Homo sapiens: one gene and its partner. The protein of the gene in region 2 binds, or shares a complex with, the protein of the main gene of each other region. Each region holds a gene or a part of one and is shown on either strand. Other genes may lie near its edges. A codon is read from its position in the direction of its gene.

The links. The genes of interacting proteins can lie anywhere in the genome.
Region 1: the proteins of ALB (region 2) and FCGRT are in contact, whole or in part, in a crystal structure (PDB 6QIO), measured with the Homo sapiens proteins. Residues at the interface, in NP_000468.1 of Homo sapiens: Arg105 (codon at 6,719), Glu106 (codon at 6,716), Thr107 (codon at 6,713), Tyr108 (codon at 6,710), Gly109 (codon at 6,707), Glu110 (codon at 6,704), Asp113 (codon at 6,695), Asn133 (codon at 6,635), Asn135 (codon at 6,629), Gln441, Ser443, Pro445, Thr446, Glu449, Leu484, Leu487, His488, Thr491, Pro492, Val493, Tyr521, Val522, Pro523, Lys524, Thr530, Phe531, Thr532, Phe533, His534, Asp536; in NP_001129491.1 of Homo sapiens: Arg65, Glu67, Glu69, Gly72, Ala73, Val75, Trp76, Gln79, Val80, Ser81, Trp82, Trp84, Glu85, Lys86, Thr89, Arg92, Asn172, Lys173, Leu175, Thr176, Leu179, Phe180, His184, Glu188, Arg192, Gly195, Asn196, Trp199, Lys200, Glu201.

What each region holds. Positions count from the first base shown.
Region 1 is NC_000019.10:49,514,727-49,523,945, reverse strand, and holds part of FCGRT (IgG receptor FcRn large subunit p51 isoform 1 precursor), read right to left. Parts: intron 7,833-9,219; coding exon of another isoform or gene 7,747-7,832; intron 2,252-7,746; coding exon of another isoform or gene 2,133-2,251; intron 1-2,132. UniProt on the Homo sapiens protein: Cell surface receptor that transfers passive humoral immunity from the mother to the newborn. Binds to the Fc region of monomeric immunoglobulin gamma and mediates its selective uptake from milk.
Region 2 is NC_000004.12:73,406,136-73,415,354, reverse strand, and holds part of ALB (albumin preproprotein), read right to left. Parts: intron 8,727-9,219; coding exon 8,594-8,726; intron 6,762-8,593; coding exon 6,550-6,761; intron 6,001-6,549; coding exon 5,868-6,000; intron 5,044-5,867; coding exon 4,946-5,043; intron 3,360-4,945; coding exon 3,230-3,359; intron 1,936-3,229; coding exon 1,721-1,935; intron 321-1,720; coding exon 188-320; intron 1-187. UniProt on the Homo sapiens protein: Binds water, Ca(2+), Na(+), K(+), fatty acids, hormones, bilirubin and drugs. Its main function is the regulation of the colloidal osmotic pressure of blood. Major zinc transporter in plasma, typically binds about 80% of all plasma zinc.

The DNA of each region.
Region 1 (9,219 bases), on a different chromosome or scaffold from region 2:
TGATAAATACAACCTTCTAAACTGACACAAGAGGAAATTTAAAACGTCTGTAGTCCTATAACTATTTAAATTTTTTTTTTTTTTTTGAGATGGAATCTTGCTCTGTCTCCCAGGCTGGAGTGCAGTGGCGCGATCTCGGCTCACTGCAAGCTCCGCCTCCTGGGTTCACGCCATTCTCCTGCCTCAGCCTCCTGAGTAGCTGGGACTATAGGTGCCCACCACCACACTTGGCTAATTTTTTGTATTTTTAGTAGAGACGGGGTTTCACCGTCTTAGCCAGGATGGTCTCAATCTCCTGACCTCATGATCCATCCGCCTGGGCCTCCCAAAGTGTTGGGATTACAGGTGTGAGCCACCACGCCTAGCCTTTTGTTTTTGAGATAAGAGTCTCGCTCTGTCACCCAGGCTGGAGTGCAGTGGCACGATCTCGACTCACTGCAACCCCCACTTCCTGGGTTCAAGAGTTTCTTCTTCCACAGCCTCCCGAGTGGCTGGGACTACAGGTGCATGCACCACCATGCCGGGTAATTTTTTTATTTTTAGTAGAGACGGTGTTTCACCATATTGGCCAGGCTGGTCTCAAATTCCTGACATTGTGATCTACCTGCCTCAGCCTCCCAAAGTGCTGGGATTACAGGCATGATGCACCACACCCGGCCTATTTAAAATTTTTAATCCATAGTTTAAAACTTTCCAAAAACTAAAATTCCAGGTCCAGAAGACATCAATTAGTGAATTCTTCCAATGTAGAAATGATTCTATTCCTACACTAACTCTTCAGGCCATAAAACAGAGGAAACACTCTCCCAGCATATTTTATGAGGTCAGCATCATCTTGACAACAAAGCACATTATAAGAAAGAGAACTTGGCCAGGCGCGGTGGCTCACGCCTGTAATCCCAGCACTTTGGGAGGCCGAGGCAGGCGGATCACGAGGTCAGGAGATTGAGACTATCCCGGCTAACACGGTGAAACCCCATCTCTACTAAAAATACAAAAAATTAGCCGGGCGTGGTGGCCGGCGCCTGTAGTCCCAGCCACTTGGGAGGCTGAGGCAGGAGAATGGCGTGAACCCGGGAGGCGGAGCTTGCAGTGAGCCGAGATTGCGCCACTGCACTCCAGCCTGGGTGACAGAGCGAGACTCCATCTCAAAAAAAAAAAAAAAAAAAAAAAAAGAGAGCTTAAGGCCAATGTCTCTCATAAATATAGATTCAGGACAGGTGTGGTGGCTCACACCTAGAATCCTGGCGCTTTGGGGGGTGGAGGCAGGAGGATCACGAGGTCAGGAGGTCGAGACCAGCCTGACCAACATGGTGAAATCCCATCTCTACTAAAAATACAAAAAAATTAGCCAGGCATGGTGGCGTGTACCTGTAATCCCAGCTACTCAGGAGGCTAAGGCAGGAGAATCGCTTGAACCCAGAAGGCGGAGGTTGCATTGAGCCAAGATTGCACCATTGCACTCCAGCCTGGGCGACAGAGCAAGACTGTCTCAAAAAAAATAAAAAATTAAAAATTTTAAAAAATTTAAAAAAAGATTCAGAACTCTTAAACATAATATTAGCAGACAGGCTGGGTGCAGTGGCTCACTCCTACAATCCCAGCGCTTTGGGAGAATGAGGTGGATCACTTGAACCCAGGAGTTGGAGACCAGCCTGGGCAAACAGTAAGACGTAGTCTCCACTACAAATAAAAAAAATTAGCCAGTGTGGTGGATGTGCCTGTGGTCCCACCTACTCTGGAGACTGAGGCAGGAGGAATCCTTGAGCCCAGGAGTTTGAGGCTGGAGTGAGTTATGATCACACCTGGGTATAGCCACTGCACTCCAGCCTGGGCGACAGAGCAAGACTCCGTCTAAAAAAAAAAAAAAAAATTCATAAACTTTATAAAATGTATAAATTGAAGTCGATAAACTGAACTTCACTGAAATTAAGAATTTTTGTTCATCCAAAGGTTTCGTTAAGGGAATGAAAAAAGGTTGGGTGCAGTGGTTCATGCCTGTAATCCCAGCACTTTGGGAAGCTGAGGCAGGAGGATCACTGGAAGCCGGGAGTTCAAGACCAGCCTGGGCAACATGGAGAAACCCCGTCTCTGAAAAAGTTTAAAAATTAACTACGTGTGATGGTACACACCTGTGGCCCCATCCATTCAGGAAGGGTAAGGTGGGAGGATCGCTTGAGCTTGGGAGGTTGAGGCTGCAGTGAACTCTAATCCCGCTACTGCACTCCAGTCTAGGCAACAGTGCAAGTGCCTGTCTCAAAGAAAAAAAAAAAAAAAAGCCGGGTGCAATGGCTCATGCCTGCAATTCCAGCACTTGGGAGGTCAAGGCAGAAGGATCCTTACGCCCAGGCTTTCTTTTCCTTTTTTTTTTTTTTTTTTTGAGACGGAGTCTCTGTCGCCCAGGCTGGAGTACAGTGGCACAATCTTGGGTCACTGCAACCTCCGCCTCCTGGGGTCAAGCGATTCTCCTGCCTCAGCCTCCAGAGTAGCTGGGATTACAGGCGCACACCACCACGCCCAGCTAATTTTTCTATTTTTAGTAGAAACAGGGTTTCACCATATTGGCCAGGCTGGTCTTGAACTCCTGACCTCGTGATCCGCCTGCCTCAGCCTCCCAAAGTGCTGGGATTACAGGCGTGAGTCACTGTGCCCGGCCAAGCCCAGGACTTCTAGACCAGCCTTGGCAACAAATACCCCATCTCTACAAAAAATAGAAAATGTTAGCCAGGCATGGTGACGTGTACCTATAGTCCCAGCTACTTGTAAGGCTGAGGCGGGAGGATCTCTTGAGCTTGGGAGTCCAAGGCTACATGGCGCTATGACTGTGCCACTGCACTCCACTCCAGTCTGGGCGACAGAGCAAGATCCCAGCTCAAAAAAGAAAATAAAAGGCAAAGATTTCAGCAACTGCCTAGGACTGGGCATTACTGCCCAAGTTCCTTTCAGGGAGGGTGGATCTGGGCAATCGTGGGTCTTGGCTGGGATCTTGGTTTTGGTTGCTCAGCAGAAAACACATTTGCTGCTTCAGGAAAGCACAGCAGCTTCTCCCTCCTGGAGCTGCCTCTCTGGCAAGTCGGCAGAATTTGCTGCACCGTCAGGTGGAATGGAGGGACCGGGCTGACGGCCATCAGCAGTTCTGGCTTCTGCTTTATGTTCACTATTCTTTTCAGCAAATCTGTATCTTCCTGTGTCGTGCTCACAGCCACGTGCCTTCAGCCTCAAGGTACTTCCAATATAGACTAAATCCAAGCACAGAAAATCTGTCTGGCCTTTGGTTCTGTTTAACAAAATACCAAACCAGGTCAGGCATGGTGGCTCACGTCTGTAACCCCAGCACTTTGGGAGGCTGAGGCAGGCAGATCACCTGATGTCAGGAGTTCAAGACCAGCTTCGCCAACATGGTGAAACTCCATCTCTACTAAACATATAAAAATTAGCTAGGCATGGCAGCGCATGCCTGTAGTCCCAGCTACCCTGGAGGCTGAGGCAGGAGGATCACTTGAATCCAGGAGGCGGAGGTTGCAGTGAGCTGAGATCATGCCATTGTACTCCAGCCTGCGCAATAAGAGTGAAACTCCATCTCAAAAAAAAAAAAAAAATCCATCCTGGCCAACATGGTGAAACCCTGTCTGTACTAAAAATACAAAAATTAGCTGGGTGTGGTGGTGTGTGCCTGTAATTCCAGCTACTAAGGAGGCTGAGGCAGGAGGATCACTTGAACCTGGGAGGTGGAGGTTGCAGTGAGCCGAGATCGTGCTACTGCACTCCAGCCTGGTGACAGAGGGAGACGCCCTCTCAAAAAAAAAAAAAAAAAAGCCCGGGCGCGGTGGCTCACGCCTGTAATCCCAGCACTTTGGGAGGCCGAGGCAAGTGGATCACAAGGTCAGGAGTTCAAGACCAGCCTGCCCAACATAGTGAAACCCCATCTCTCCAAAAAAAATACAAAAATTAGCCAGGCATGGTGGCACGCACCTGTAATCCCAGCTACTCAGGAGGCTGAGGCAGCAGAATCGCTTGAACCTGGGAGGCGGAGGTTGCAGTGAGCCAAGATCGCAACACTGCACTCCAGCCTGGGCGACAGAGCAAGACTCCATCTCAAAAAAAAAAAAAAAAAAAAAAGATTAAGGCAATGGCCATTGCTATCCGCTAAAACCATCAGGAGAAAACCTGACAAAGAACTTCATAACAACACCCGAATCCAGTGGTCCACAGAACAGCACAGAAGCAAGCAGATGTTTGCAGCCTATGCACACAGACATACGCACCAACTACCCAGAAAGTTTTCTTGCCATAAAAATTGAACCAGAATCTGACCAAGCTTCTAGATGGAGCTGCTCCTTTAAAGAAGAGAAGGAGGACTATTTCCAGCAACATCACAGGATGCAAAGGGCAAAATCCAGTCTAGGAGAAACTCAATAGGACATAAACTGACTTTCTTCAAACCACAATTACAGGGGGAAAAAAAACAAAAAGAAAATGGGAAACCTGTAAATCAAAAGACACTCAAGATCACAAGTAACTCAAATTACCTGAAAATGAATCACAGACCTAACTGTAAAATGCAAAACTTTAAAACTCTTAAAATACACAGGAGAAGATCTAGCTGACTTTGGGTTTGGTGATTACTTCTGAGATTAAACACCAAAAGCATAATCCACGATAGAAAAAAAAAAAAGAATAAACTGGATTTCATCAAAGTTAAAAACTTTTGCTTTGTGAAAGGCACAGTTAAAACAATGAAAAGACAACCTAGAGAGTGGAAGAAATATTTGCAAAACACCTATCTGGTAAAAAATTGGAATCCGGCCGGGCGCGGTGGCTCAAGCCTGTAATCCCAGTACTTTGGGAGGCTGAGGCAGGCGGATCAGGAGGTCAGGAGATCGAGACCATCCTGCCTAACACAGTGAAACTCTGTCTCTACTAAAAATACAAAAAATTAGCCGGGCGTGGTGGTGGGCGCCTGTAGTCCCAGCCACTCGGGAGGCTGAGGCAGGAGAATTGGTGCAACTTGGGAGGTGGAGGTTGCAATGAGCTGAGATCGCGCCACTGCACCCCAGCCTGGGTGACAGAGCGAGACTCCGTCTCCAAAAAAAAGAAAAAAACAAAAATACGGCCGAGCGCGGTGGCTCACGCCTGTAATCCCAGCACTTTGGGAGGCCGAGGTGGGTGGATCACCTGGGGTCGGGAGTTCGAAACCAGCCTGGCCAACATGGTGAAACTCTGTCTCTACTAAAGATACAAAAAATTAGCAGGGCGTGGTGGCTTGCGCCTGTAATCCCAGCTACTTGGGACGCTGAGGCAGGAGAATTGCTTGAACCCGGGAGGCAGAAGTTGCAGTGAGCCGAGTTCGTGCCTCTGCACTCCAGTCTGGGCGACAGAGTAAGACTTTGTCTCAAAAAACAAACAAACAAAAATAGCTAGGCCTGATGGCGTGCACCTGTGGTCCTACCTACTGGGGAGGCTGAAGTGGGAGAATTACTTGAGCCCAGGAAGTTCAGACTGCAGTGAGCTATGATTGCACCACTGGACTCCAGTCTGGTGACAGAGCAAGACCCTGTCTCAAAAAGGAAAAAAAAAAAAAAAAAGAAAGAAAGAAAAATTCAACAATCAGAAAAAGACACTGAAAAGACAACAAAATGTGTGGACCTTGCTGGATGCTGATTCAAACTTTAAAAAACATTTACAGTCAGGAATATGGGAACAAAAACTGGACATCTGATGCCATTAAAGAGTTAATTGGTTGTAGGTGTGATGATGGTTTTGGTATTAATTTTTTTTAAATGCCCTTACCTAGTAGAGTTACATACTAAAGGACTTATCAACAAAACAGTCTGGCTGGGCACGGTGACTCCCGCACTTTGGGAGGCTGAGGAGGGCAGATCACTTGAGGTGGAGGGTTCGAGACCAGCCTGGCCAACATAGTGAAATCCCGTCTCTACTAAAAATACAAAAATTGGCCAGGCGCGGTGGCTTATGCCTGTAATCCCAGCACTTTGGGAGGCCAAGGTGGGTGGATCACGAGGTCAGGAGTTCAAGACCAGCCTGGCCAATATGGTGAAACCTCATCTCTACTAAAAATACAAAAATTGGCTGGGCGAGGTGGCGGGCACCTGTAATCCCAGCTACTCAGGAGGCTGAGGCAGGAGAATTGTTTGAACCTGGGAGGCGAAGCTTGCAGTGAGCCGAGACTGAGCCACTACACTCCCGCATGACAGAGTGAGACTCCATCTCAAAATACAAACAAACAAAGAAAAAAACACTGTGATGTCTGAGATTTACCAAAGCTTGATGTGAAGTGGGGTGGGGAAGTGAGTGAGGATGTGCGTGAAATTCAAAAAACCATGGGTTGATAATTATTAAGTCTCAGTGATGGGATGCTCGCTTCCTTCCTTCCTTCCTTCCTTTCCTTCCTCTTTCTCTCTCCCTCTCCTCTCTCTTTCTTTCCTTCTTTCTTTGAGACAGAGTCTTGCTTTGTTGCCCAGGCTGGAGTGCAGTGGCTTGATCTCGGCTCACTGCAACCTCTGCTTCCCGGGATCAAGTGATTCTCCTGCCTCAGCCTCCCGAATAGCTGGAATTACAAGCACCCACCACCGCACCCGGCTAATTTTTGTATGTTTAGTAGAGATGGGGTTTCACTCTGTTGGCCAGGCTTATCTCAAACTCCTGACCTTAAGTGATCTGCCCACCTCGGCCTCCCAAAGTGTTGGAATTACAGGCGTGAGCCACTGCACCTGGCCACCATATTTTTTTTCTTTTTGAGACAGGGTCTGGCTCTGTCATCTGGGCTGGAGTGCAGAGTTGCAATCAGTTCACTACAGCCTCAAACTCCTGAGCTCAAGCGATCCTCCTGCCATAGCCTCCCCAGTGGCTGGGACTAGAGGCACATACCACCATGCCAGGCTAATTTTTTGAGTTTTTAGTAGAGATGCGGTCTTACTATGTTGCCCAGGCTGGTCTTGAACTCCTGGGATCAAGCAATCCACCTGCCTCGGCCTCCCAAAGTTCTGGGATTATAGGCGTGAGCCACCGTGTCTGGTCCGTTTTATACTATTGTTTCTACTTAAGTGTGGTTTGAAACTTTCCCTCCTTAAGCCAGGAGTGGTGGCTCATGCCTGTAATCCCAGCACTTTGGGAGGCCAAGGTAGGCAGATCACGAGATCAGGAGTTCGAGACCAGCCTGGCCAGCATGGTGAAGCCCCCGTCTCTACTAAAAATACAAAAATTAGCCAGGCATGGTGGTGTGTGCCTGTAATCCCAGCTACTCGGGAGGCTGAGGTAGGAGAATTGCTTGAACCTGGGAGGCGGAGGTTGCAGTGAGCCAAGATTGCGCCACAGTACTGCAGTCTGGGCGACAGTGCAAGAGTCTGTCTCAAAAACAACAACAACAACAACAAAGGCCAGGAGCAGTGGCTCACGTCTGTAATTCCAGCACTTTGGGAGGCCGAGGCAGGCAGATCACGAGGTCAAAAGATCGAGACCATCCCGGCCAACATGGTAAAACCCTGTCTTTACTAAAAAAAAAAAAACAAACAAAAATTAGCCAGGCGTGGTGGTGCACGCCTGTAGTCCCAGCTACTCGGGAGGCTGAGGCAGGAGAATCACTTGAACCTGGGAGGCGGAGGTTGCAGTGAGCCGAGATCGCGCCATTGCACTCCAGCCTGGGCGACAAGAGCGAAACTCTGTCTCAAAAAAAGAAAGAAATTTTCCCTACTTAGGAAAGAAAGAAGACAATTAAAGAAAAACTACCTGGTTGAGTCTCAACTTCTCCTTTGTGGCACTTGGAATGAATATCTGTGCACATCCCCAGCTGGTATCTATCTTTGTCCAGCAGCCTGGGAGCCACAGAGGGTGAATGTGTGTCACTTCCCTCTTTGCTCAAGGCCCAGAGCAGCGCCTGGCAGTGCAAATGCTCTTGGCCAACAGTTGAATGAGTGGGGATCTGGGGGCCTCCGGGGAGGAAACAGTGAACTCTGCCCTACAGAGCTGAGGAAAGGCTTCTCAGAGGAAGTGATATCCAGCCCTGACCTTGAAGAATAAGGAGGGCTGGAGTATATGCAGAGAGGGGGAAGGGTGGAACAGAGAGGTGCCAGGGGAAACTGGATGAGCAAATGCCCAGAGGGAGGAGATTGCTTATGTTGGGTGGCTGGAGCGTAGACTCTGATGGCTGCGTAGAGACAAGTGCTGCTGCGTGGGTCTGATGAGGACATTAAGGCAAGGAAGGCCAAGCACAGTGGCTCACACCTGTCATCCCAGCACCCTGGGAGGCCAAAGTGAGAGAATCACTTGAGGCCAGGAGTTTGAGTCTGGCCTGGGCAGCATAGTGAGATGCCACCTCTACAACAAATTTTAAAAATTAGCCAGGTATGGCCAGACGCGGTAGCTCACTCCTGTAATCCCAGCACTTTGGGAGGCGGAGGTGGGTGGATCACTTGAGGTCAAGAGTTTGAGACCAGCCTAGCTACCATGACGAAACCCCATCTCTACTAAAAGTATAAAAATTAGCCAGACATGGTGGATGTGCCTATAGTGCCAGCTACTCATGAGGCTGAAGCAGCGGAATCCCTTAAACCCAGGAGGCGGAGGTTGCAGCGAGCTGAGATCACCCTGCTTCACACTAGCCTGGGCAACAGAGATTGTGCGGAAAAAAAAAAATTAGCCAGTTATGGTGGTATGCACCTGTAATCTCAGCTACTCAGGAGACCAAAGCAGGAGAATCGCTGGAGCCTAGGAGTTCAAGACCAGCCTGGGCAACATAGTGAGACACCGTGTCTACAAAATATAAAGTTAGCCAGGTGTGATGATGCTGGGCTGTGGTCCCAGCTACTTGGTTGGCTGAGGTGGGAGGACTGCTTGAGCCTGGGAGGTTCAGGCTGCAGTGAGCCGAGATGGTGCCACCACATTCCAGCCTGGGGTGACAGAGCGAGAATCTGTCTCAAAAAAAAAAAAAAGGGGGGAGCCAGGAGCAGTAGCTCATGCCTGTAATCCCAGCACTTTGGGAGGCTGAGGTGGGCGGATCACCTGAGGTCAGGGGTTTGAGACCAGCCTGACCAACATGAAGAAACCCCGTCTCTACTAAAAATACAAAATTAGCCGGGCATGGTGGTGCATGCCTGTAATCCCAGCCACTCGGGAGGCTGAGGCAGGAGATCACTTGAACCCGGGAGGCGGAGGTTGTGGTGAGCCGAGATCGCGCCATTACACTCCAGCCTGGGCAACAAG
Region 2 (9,219 bases):
TAGTCTAAATTTTGTTAATCATTCTAAGGCTACTTTTTCTTTCATGTTTAAGATTCCAGAATTGAAACCATCTCAAGAAAAGATCTAAATTGCACTGTATATCATTTTACATTCTTGCATTATTTTTCTTTCTCATTATTGGAATCATCAGTCAAAGAACTACATTTTTTTCCAACAATAAACCTACCACTTTGGCATAGCATTCATGAGGATCTGCAGCGGCACAGCACTTCTCTAGAGTGGTTTCATATGTCTTGGCAAGTCTCAGCAGCAGCACGACAGAGTAATCAGGATGCCTTCTTGCATATTCATACAAAAACCTAATTAAGATGAAAATAAAATAGACTTTGTTGGACAAATGAGCACAAAAAATATCACAAAGCTAATCTCAAAAGTAACTCATATTCCAAAAGTCTTAATTTGACTAAACCCCATGCAGTAAAGCTTAGTAGCTAAGGACTTGGGGTCCAGAGTTAAAGTTACCAAGGCTCAATTCCTAGCTCTGCTACTTATATCACTGCATCACCTTAGGCAACTTATTTAAATGATCAGAGCCTTAGTCTCCTTCTCGGTAGAATGGAAATAATAATAGTATCTGTCGGCTGGGCACAGTGGCTCATGCCTGTAATCCCAGCACTTTAGGAGGCTGAGGCAGGCATATCACCAGAGGTCAGGAGTTTGAGACCAGTCTGACCAACATGGTGAAACCCCATCTCTACTAAAAATACAAAATTAGCCAGGCATGGTGGTGCATGCCTGTAATCCCAGGAGGCTGAGGCAGGAGAATCGCTTGAACCTGGGAGGCGGAGGTTGTGGTGAGCCGAGATGGCACCATTGCACTCCAGCCTGGGCAACAAGAGTAAAACTCTGTCTCAAAAAATAAATAGTATCTGTCTCGGAAGGTGGATTATGAGAACTATATGACATAATCTACACAAAGCACACACTGCTTGGCACATATGAAGTCTTTGATGAATGATACTTGTTATTTTTATTAACATTTTGTTTGATTTAAACTACATCTCAAAAGGATTCTGATAAATAGATGGGCAGAGATATGTTCTTAAAATATTCTCTTTCTTCTCTGTATGAGTGAAATCTTGTAGGGTACATAATTTTAGGAAATATTATTTAGTGCATTATCATAATCCAACAACAAAAATGCAGTTTATCACCACAACTTCTGACAATATGTAAACATTTATTTTGTAATTGAGTTGCCTACCATATTGCCATTATACTGAACTTCTGGTCTTTTCACCAAATATAAAGCACCTGGTGTCAGACTCTATATTTCTTTTTATACTTCTTTGCTATCATTGCATAGATTAGATAGATAGACTAGATTAGATTAGATTAGTTAGATAGACAGGCAATACATAGTCACACACATATATTATAGATGTTCAAGAAATACACTTGGAATGAATGACTGAAGTATACATAATTTATATATACACAAAATGTTTCTAGACGTATTTTCAGAAATACCCCTAAGGAGTAAGGAATGTTGAGCTTTGCCATGAACATGTATTATTTTATGACAATGTATTCAACTAATTAACTATTTCAAAAATTGTTAAAGCCTGGGAAAGGGAAGGATGAAGAAACATTCTGGGCAGCAGGGAAATTGTAGCAACTCCACAGAAAAGCCTAGGCTATCCTCCTAAGTTGTGAGGTCATGCCAAAGCTATAAAAGAATAATTTCTTATCTACTTACATGCCCAGGAAGACATCCTTTGCCTCAGCATAGTTTTTGCAAACATCCTTACTTTCAACAAAATCAGCAGCTAATGAAGGCAAGTCAGCAGGCATCTCATCATTTTCCACTTCGGCAATGCAGTGGGATTTTTCCAACAGAGGTTTTTCACAGCATTCCTTCAGTTTACTGGAGATCGAATCTTGATTTTCACAGATATACTTGGCAAGGTCCGCCTATAAGTAAGTTGGTGGAAATTGTTCAACACGAATTGACATTGCTACACTTTCTCCTCAGACCTTTATTAAGTTGGCAGAACATATTCATTGTATTCTAAGACCATACACATATTCCTTCTATGAACATACTCTGTTTGCTCCTAAACCTGGAGATGTAGATAGGACTACAAAAACATTCCCACTTAATTAAAATAGACTAATCAGTAGCAGGTGCTCAGCTCAGTTATTTATTAATTTTATGTTTCTACTGTTAGGGCATTTAAGTTTTTTTCATTAAAACTCAATGCTGTTTTTCCAAATAATCCCCCAAAATTAAGTGCAGGCCTTTTGAAACCAAATAACTAAATAAAATATAGAAGATTTTTGAAAAATGAGTCAAGATCATAGTCATAGGCCCTGCTTACATATATAAAATAACCGCCTTAAATTTTCCAGAAAGTGCCATGAGAGATTAGGATTCTAGTATTTGCCCATAAGTTTAATCTTGAAGAAAGGGAGAAAGAAAATATTATAAGTTTTGAGAAAAGAGATATCATTCCAAATATTTGCACATCTAACAAACAGAGTTAATTAAGGGAAGGAATATAGAGAAGAAAAATACATCATTTCCAAAAATCTCTTCAAGTAGTGACCTTCTCCAAGTCCACCTACCTCCCTCAAAAAATCTTCTTAGGCTGGGCAAGGTGGCTCATGCCTGTAATCCCAGCACTTTGGGAGGCCAAGGCGGGTGGATCACCTGAGGTCAGGAGTTCGAGACCAGTCTGGACAATATGGTGAAACCCCGCCTCTACTAAAAATACAAAATTAGCCAGGTGTGGTGGCGCATGCCTGTAATCCCAGCTACTTGGGAGGCTGAGGCATGAGAATCACTTGAACCCAGGAGGCAGAGGTTGCGCTGAGCCAAGATCACACCATTGCACCCCAGCCTGGGAAACAAGAGCGAAACTCTGTCTTAAAAAAAGAAAAAAAAATCTTCTTAGACATCTACCTTGCAAGATGTTCTGCCAAGTAAAACCTTGTAACTGTTCTACTTCAGTTTAAGCCTTCATTTACAGTTAGAGCATGACTGAAAGGAGTTACAAATCAGTGAATGGGTTTATCTGGTAATTTATAGCCAGGTTAAAAACAGAAAGGTACCACCACCATAGGCAGGGAAAGATTGAAGATAGGACAGACGAAAGCACAGAAGACAATCTCAACCCACTGTCAGCTATCACCAATGATACCAAACGCATCCATTCTACCAACTTGAGCATGCAAGCTACCAAAAAGCATATCGACGACTCTTTACCCTGTCATCAGCACATTCAAGCAGATCTCCATGGCAGCATTCCGTGTGGACTTTGGTAAGATCTGTCACTAACTTGGAAACTTCTGCAAACTCAGCTTTGGGAAATCTCTGGCTCAGGCGAGCTACTGCCCTAAAAAGAAAATCGCCAATCAAAATGGTATTATCATGCGATATTTTATATGAAAACACTAGGCAAATACTATTTCTCATAAGAAAATTCAAAATGGACATACAGAAATAATTTTTAAAATTCATTAGTTCTAGTTCTGAACCAAATGGTAATCACTTATCCTTAGGGCAGAATTATCCATTTAAGAGTGTGTGTGGTAGGTAGAAATCTAGCAAGTCATAAAAGCAGAAATTAAAAAGGAACTCTAAAAGGGGCAACAGGCTGAGAAGCATCAGGTTTGGAGTCCAGATGTGACTTCCAGCTCTGGCTTTATCACTTGTTAGCAGTAGGACTTGTTAGCAGAGGGCTCAGCCTCTCTGAGCTTCAGCCTCTGCAGTGTCATGACAACATGCTAAATTGAAGAAGTTTTGAGGATTAAATTAGATAATACATACAAAAGCATTTTATAATCTGGGAAGTACTACACAAACTCCAGTTATCTTTTTTCTCAATTGAAACACATTTTTTCTGACTTCTAAAGGTCTCTTAGAAAAGAAATCATAACTTCTACAGAATGAGGGAGTTTTTATTGATCTTACTTATAAAAAGAAAGATCCAGCACTATCTTCAAACTCTATGACAAGATGTAAACGTCTAATTTTCTTCATTCTCTAGTCATTTCACAGTTGCCTAAATCAGGTAAAGGTGACTTCTTTCCCAAAACCAATCATAGCCTGTTTATCTGTGTATAATTTTATGTTGGGGCTGTTTTTTTTCATAAATTTGGTTGATTTTGGTGGTGTAGATGGTAGGAATGATGAGCAAATACAGTTCAATTGACAGTTTCTAGAGAGCATGCATAATGTCTATTATTTTCATTTTATTTCCTGTTGTGTTGATTTGCTGTTGACTAGCAGGTGAGGAGTGTGGGTGACGGGGCAGCTAGTATTTTTCTTGACTCGGCTATTAAAGTATGCTCCCAGAACCAACTAAGTAATATGAAAACAGAGGCTCAGGCAAAAACATGAGATGAAGATCAGAGCTGGAGCTATGCAAAAATAAGAAGTAACTTCAACTTAGTTGGTGACTGAATTTAACTATAAGACATAAAAGGACAAGCAAATAGTTTTAGATCATTGGGGGGAAGATAAAATTAAATAAAGGGATTATATATGTTGTATACTTATATCAAAATATCTCATATACCCCGTAAATATGTATACCTACTCTGTATCCACAAAAATTAAAAATAACTTTAAAAAATTAAATAAAGAACCATGCCTACAGCTCTATAAAAATAATGAACCATTAGAATAAGAGTCCAAGATTTTATAAATAAATAGAACTTAAATATCTGTCCCTTTTTTTAGGACAAAAAGGACAGCGTCCTCTAAATTATTCAACTATTTAGAAAAGAAAAGATTAAAAATAATGTCAAATTGTCATTGATATTCTGATTTTTACCTCTATTAGAGTTCTACCTGTTAGACAACCAAAGAAATGTATTTGACAGCACTTTGCAAAATACATAAAAATGTACAATTTGTCACTGAAGCATTATCATTTACATCGTTATAAAGATGCCAACTATGTTTAAAAGTATTTACCATGCTTTGAAAGCTCTTTCTCCAAATTTTTGGAGACTGGCACACTTGAGTCTCTGTTTGGCAGACGAAGCCTTCCCTTCATCCCGAAGTTCATCGAGCTACAAAAAGGAATAATTTGATGAAAATTAGAAGAAAAATTCTACATGAAACACCCCTCCATAAGCTCAGATGAGACTGTGCCAAATTAAATTTTGAAGGCATAATTTATGCCTAAATTCCCAAGTACTCCCTTTAGCGAATAATGATTTTGCTCTCTAAGAAAAGGAAAGATCATTCGATCATTCTGGTCACAGCGGAATTCCCTATGTAGTTAGAAACCAACTGGAAACATTGCCAGGAAAAAGAGCCTTAAAAGTGGGAGAAAAGTCAGAGAAAGAGTACGCTAATATCCCAGGGGCTGCAATTTTGCTAATTTTTAAATTTTGTGTATAATTCATTTCAGTCTCTCCTCCACCAACATCAGTAAACTCCTCAGAAAAGAAAATAAAGCATTCCATAATATATATTTATGGAATGAATGCATGAACTCAGGCATCTAGATGCAGTAAAATTCTCTACTTTGAATTCCCTCCCTACTAAAAATTATCATGAAAAGATAAACAAGAACTGTGGCCCCTTGCTGTGCAATTTGACAAACAAGTTTCAGTATTTCACTATAGTGATCACCACCATAAAAAGTGGTGAAATCTTTAAACACATGCACAGTGATTACCTCTGACAGATCATCATTGGCAAATCTTAAAAGAAGAAACGAGAGTGTAGGCCTTCAAAGATGAAAGATTTTCAAGACAGATAAAAGGAAGGCTTTTTTGACCATGTCGGAAAGTTTGTATCAGACACTCAGGTTCCCTAAATCTAGCCACAAAATGGACAAAATCAGGTTGGATAATGAACTCTTTTTTTCTATTCTTTTGCATAATACCTTTGGCAACAGGCAGGCAGCTTTATCAGCAGCTTGGCAACATTCTGTAAAAGCAGCTTTATACCTTTTAGCAAAGAAAAGGAGTTCCGGGGCATAAAAGTAAGGATGTCTTCTGGCAATTTCATATAAGTATCTAAATTTTGAAAAAGAAAAACAGTCACTTTTCTATAGCAGACAATATTACAGAAATAATTGTAATCGACATTCTCCCCAGAACCTCCAAATTCCAAAGATATCTAATTAACCAATTAAGCTCAATTTGCACATGATGGTCTTGTCTCTGTCATTCTTTAAGTATGTGGAAAAAAGGGTTAAGTGTGTGTGTGTGTGTGTGTGTGTGCATAAATGGTTAAATTTTGGCAATATAATGTTGCTGACTAAAACGAAATCAATTATAACAACCATATATACATATCTTCGTAATACATTAAATAATTTGTCTATCTTAAATTTTTCAGAAAGATTGTATCCTGTTTCAATAAACTTCAAAATATCTTTGATCATATTTTTTGCTGTGTAGAATTTTGTGGTATCAAATACTACTTCTTTAAAAAATCATCATAACAAAACTTCCAAGTCTTAATGTTGAAAATATTTTTGTTATGGTAATTTTTATAGAGTGTTGGCCTATGGAGTTACTCCATGCTTTTTAATTTTGAACTATAAACATCTGATTACTTACTTTTTCAAAAATGTCTCTTCATTGTCATGAAAAGCAGTGCACATCACATCAACCTCTGGTCTCACCAATCGGGGGAGGTTTGGGTTGTCATCTTTGTGTTGCAAGAAGCATTCATTTCTCTCAGGTTCTTGTTTTGCACAGCAGTCAGCCATTTCACCATAGGTTTCACGAAGAGTTGCAACTGTGCATAATTTGTCTCCAAAAAGGGTATGCTAAATGGAAGAAAGCAGGTTTCAGTTGCTGGACAGTACCTTTTTTCTTTATAGCCAAAGAACAGTACAAAGGATTTAATATACTGGTTAAGCTTGGTCAGGAAATCATTTAAAAATCCGCTTCCCCTCCCAATCGAGGTTTACAGTTTCTGATGATTTAACCATCTCTATATAATTTTCATAAGAATTAACTGTCACACTATAACTCATGGTGAATAAAACAGGACAAAAAGACAGTCAATAGCTTTAAGGAAAGTTATATGACTCCTATTTTGAAACTTAAAACTAAAGGGTAAGAGCAATCATTATAACAGAAATCAAGAGAAAATAAGCTTCTAAGCAGCAGGTGAATTCACCTAGGGGAGAAAAACATTCAGAGAGTTTCTCATTTCATTTGCCCCCTTTTTAGAGGGCCATGTTTTAGTATATGCCATTGAAAACTGAGGAGTAACACAATCCATCATATATTAAGTGACTATTAAGATATAGACATTTTTCTTCCAGAAATGTTACCTAAAATCACTTTCCAATAAATGAGTCCTTTCCTTATCTCTAATTTTTATTATGAAAGTAACTGTAACCCCAGGGAAAATATACTACTCTAGACAGAATTTATTAATTTTTATGTATTTTTAAGATTTCATATGTAGAGCCATAGTATTGTGTAAAGTTAAAGTCCTGACTCTGCTGTGAGGGAGAGGTACATAATAAAAAGGGGAAAGGCTCCAGTGATAAAAACTGGCCTTGCCCACAAGAGGTATATATAGATTGAGTGGTGAGAGAAAGATAAACCTGTCCTTGTTTTGAAGATTGATCTGGAAATACTAAAAGTTTAAAGTTCTTCAACATGACTAAGTACTCTGCTTTTTTATTGTATGTAGAAATACAAAGATATCTAAAATGAGGAATATATAGCTGTACTATTATTCCACCCAGGTAACAAAATTAGCATAGAAATCAGTGGGTGTTTTCTGATGATAAAAACCATGATATCATCTCTAAGAGATAGTAGCTCTCCTGTGTTCATTGCAACACTATTCATGATAGTCAAGATGTAGAAAACCAACCTAAATGTCTATCAATCAACAAATTAATGGATAAAGAAAATGTGGTACACACATGCACTGGAATATTATTCAGCCTTGAAAAGAAGGAAATTCTGCAATAGGCAACAACATGGTTGGACTTTGAATGCACTATGCTAAGGGAAATAAGTCAGTCATAAAAAGATAAACAGTACATAATACCACTTATATAAGGTAGCTAAAGTAGTCAAACTCATAGAATCAAAGAGTATAATGCTGGTTGCCAGTGGCTGGGGGAGGACGAAACGAGGGGTTACTAATCAATGGGCACAAAGTTTTAATACAGCAAGATGAGTAAGCTATACAACAGTGTACCCGTAGTTAACAATAATGGATTGTACACTTAAAAATATAACAGGGTAGATCTCATGTTAAGGGTTCTTACTATAATAAAATAAGATAAATAAATAAATAAATACATGCTATCATATCCCTATTAGCCTCTACAAAAAGAAACCAAACCTCAAATTTTAAAAAGAGGTGTTTATAAATGACAAATTGCCATTTAAATACACCATGACTGTTGTGTTTGGTCTCAATAAAGAAATGATTTTAAAACTGTGGACATAGCTAAAGCATCTCTATCACAAAAGAAACAATGGCTTATCAGTCTATGAGCAACTTTTTAGTGTTTCTTACAAATCAGGACACTTAATAATAATTGAGAAAACTTAAAAAAAATTCCTTTGAAATGCTTGGGATTACTTCAAACAGAAGAAAGAATCTCCACAATTAGAATGTACTTACAAGTGATTTGTCACAATTTTCAGCTGACTCATCAGCAACACATGTTTTTGCAAATTCAGTTACTTCATTCACTAATTTTACATGATCTTCAAATGGACACTGCTGAAGATACTGAGCAAAGGCAATCAACACCCTGAAACAAAGGATGTAGAAAAATGTAGTATAATAAAACTTTAATATGTAACAGGTTGCTACGCTAGAGAACAAATCATGTATGGGTATAGGTTCTATCTTTTATACATCTTCTTCACCATTATCCAGAAAGCCTATTCATATCAGGTATGATCTGAGGCCTAGATAGGCATATGTGGCTTCCTACGCAAAGAGAATGGTAGTTCCCTAATGTTTATATGTATGCGTGTGTCAGTAGATCTATGCACACACATAGATTAAGCAAGCAAATTGTATGCCAAATAGATCTAATTGTCAAGACTAGGCATTTTTAAAGTCCTTAGAATTACTTAAAACTAAAACAAACCCCACAGATTTCCTTTTTCTTTTTTGAGACAGAGTCTCACTCTGTCACCCAGGCTGGAGTGCAGTGGCACAATCATGGCTCACTGTAGCCTTGACCTCTCAGGTCCAAACGATCCTCCTACGTCAGCCTCCTAAGTAGCTAGGACTAC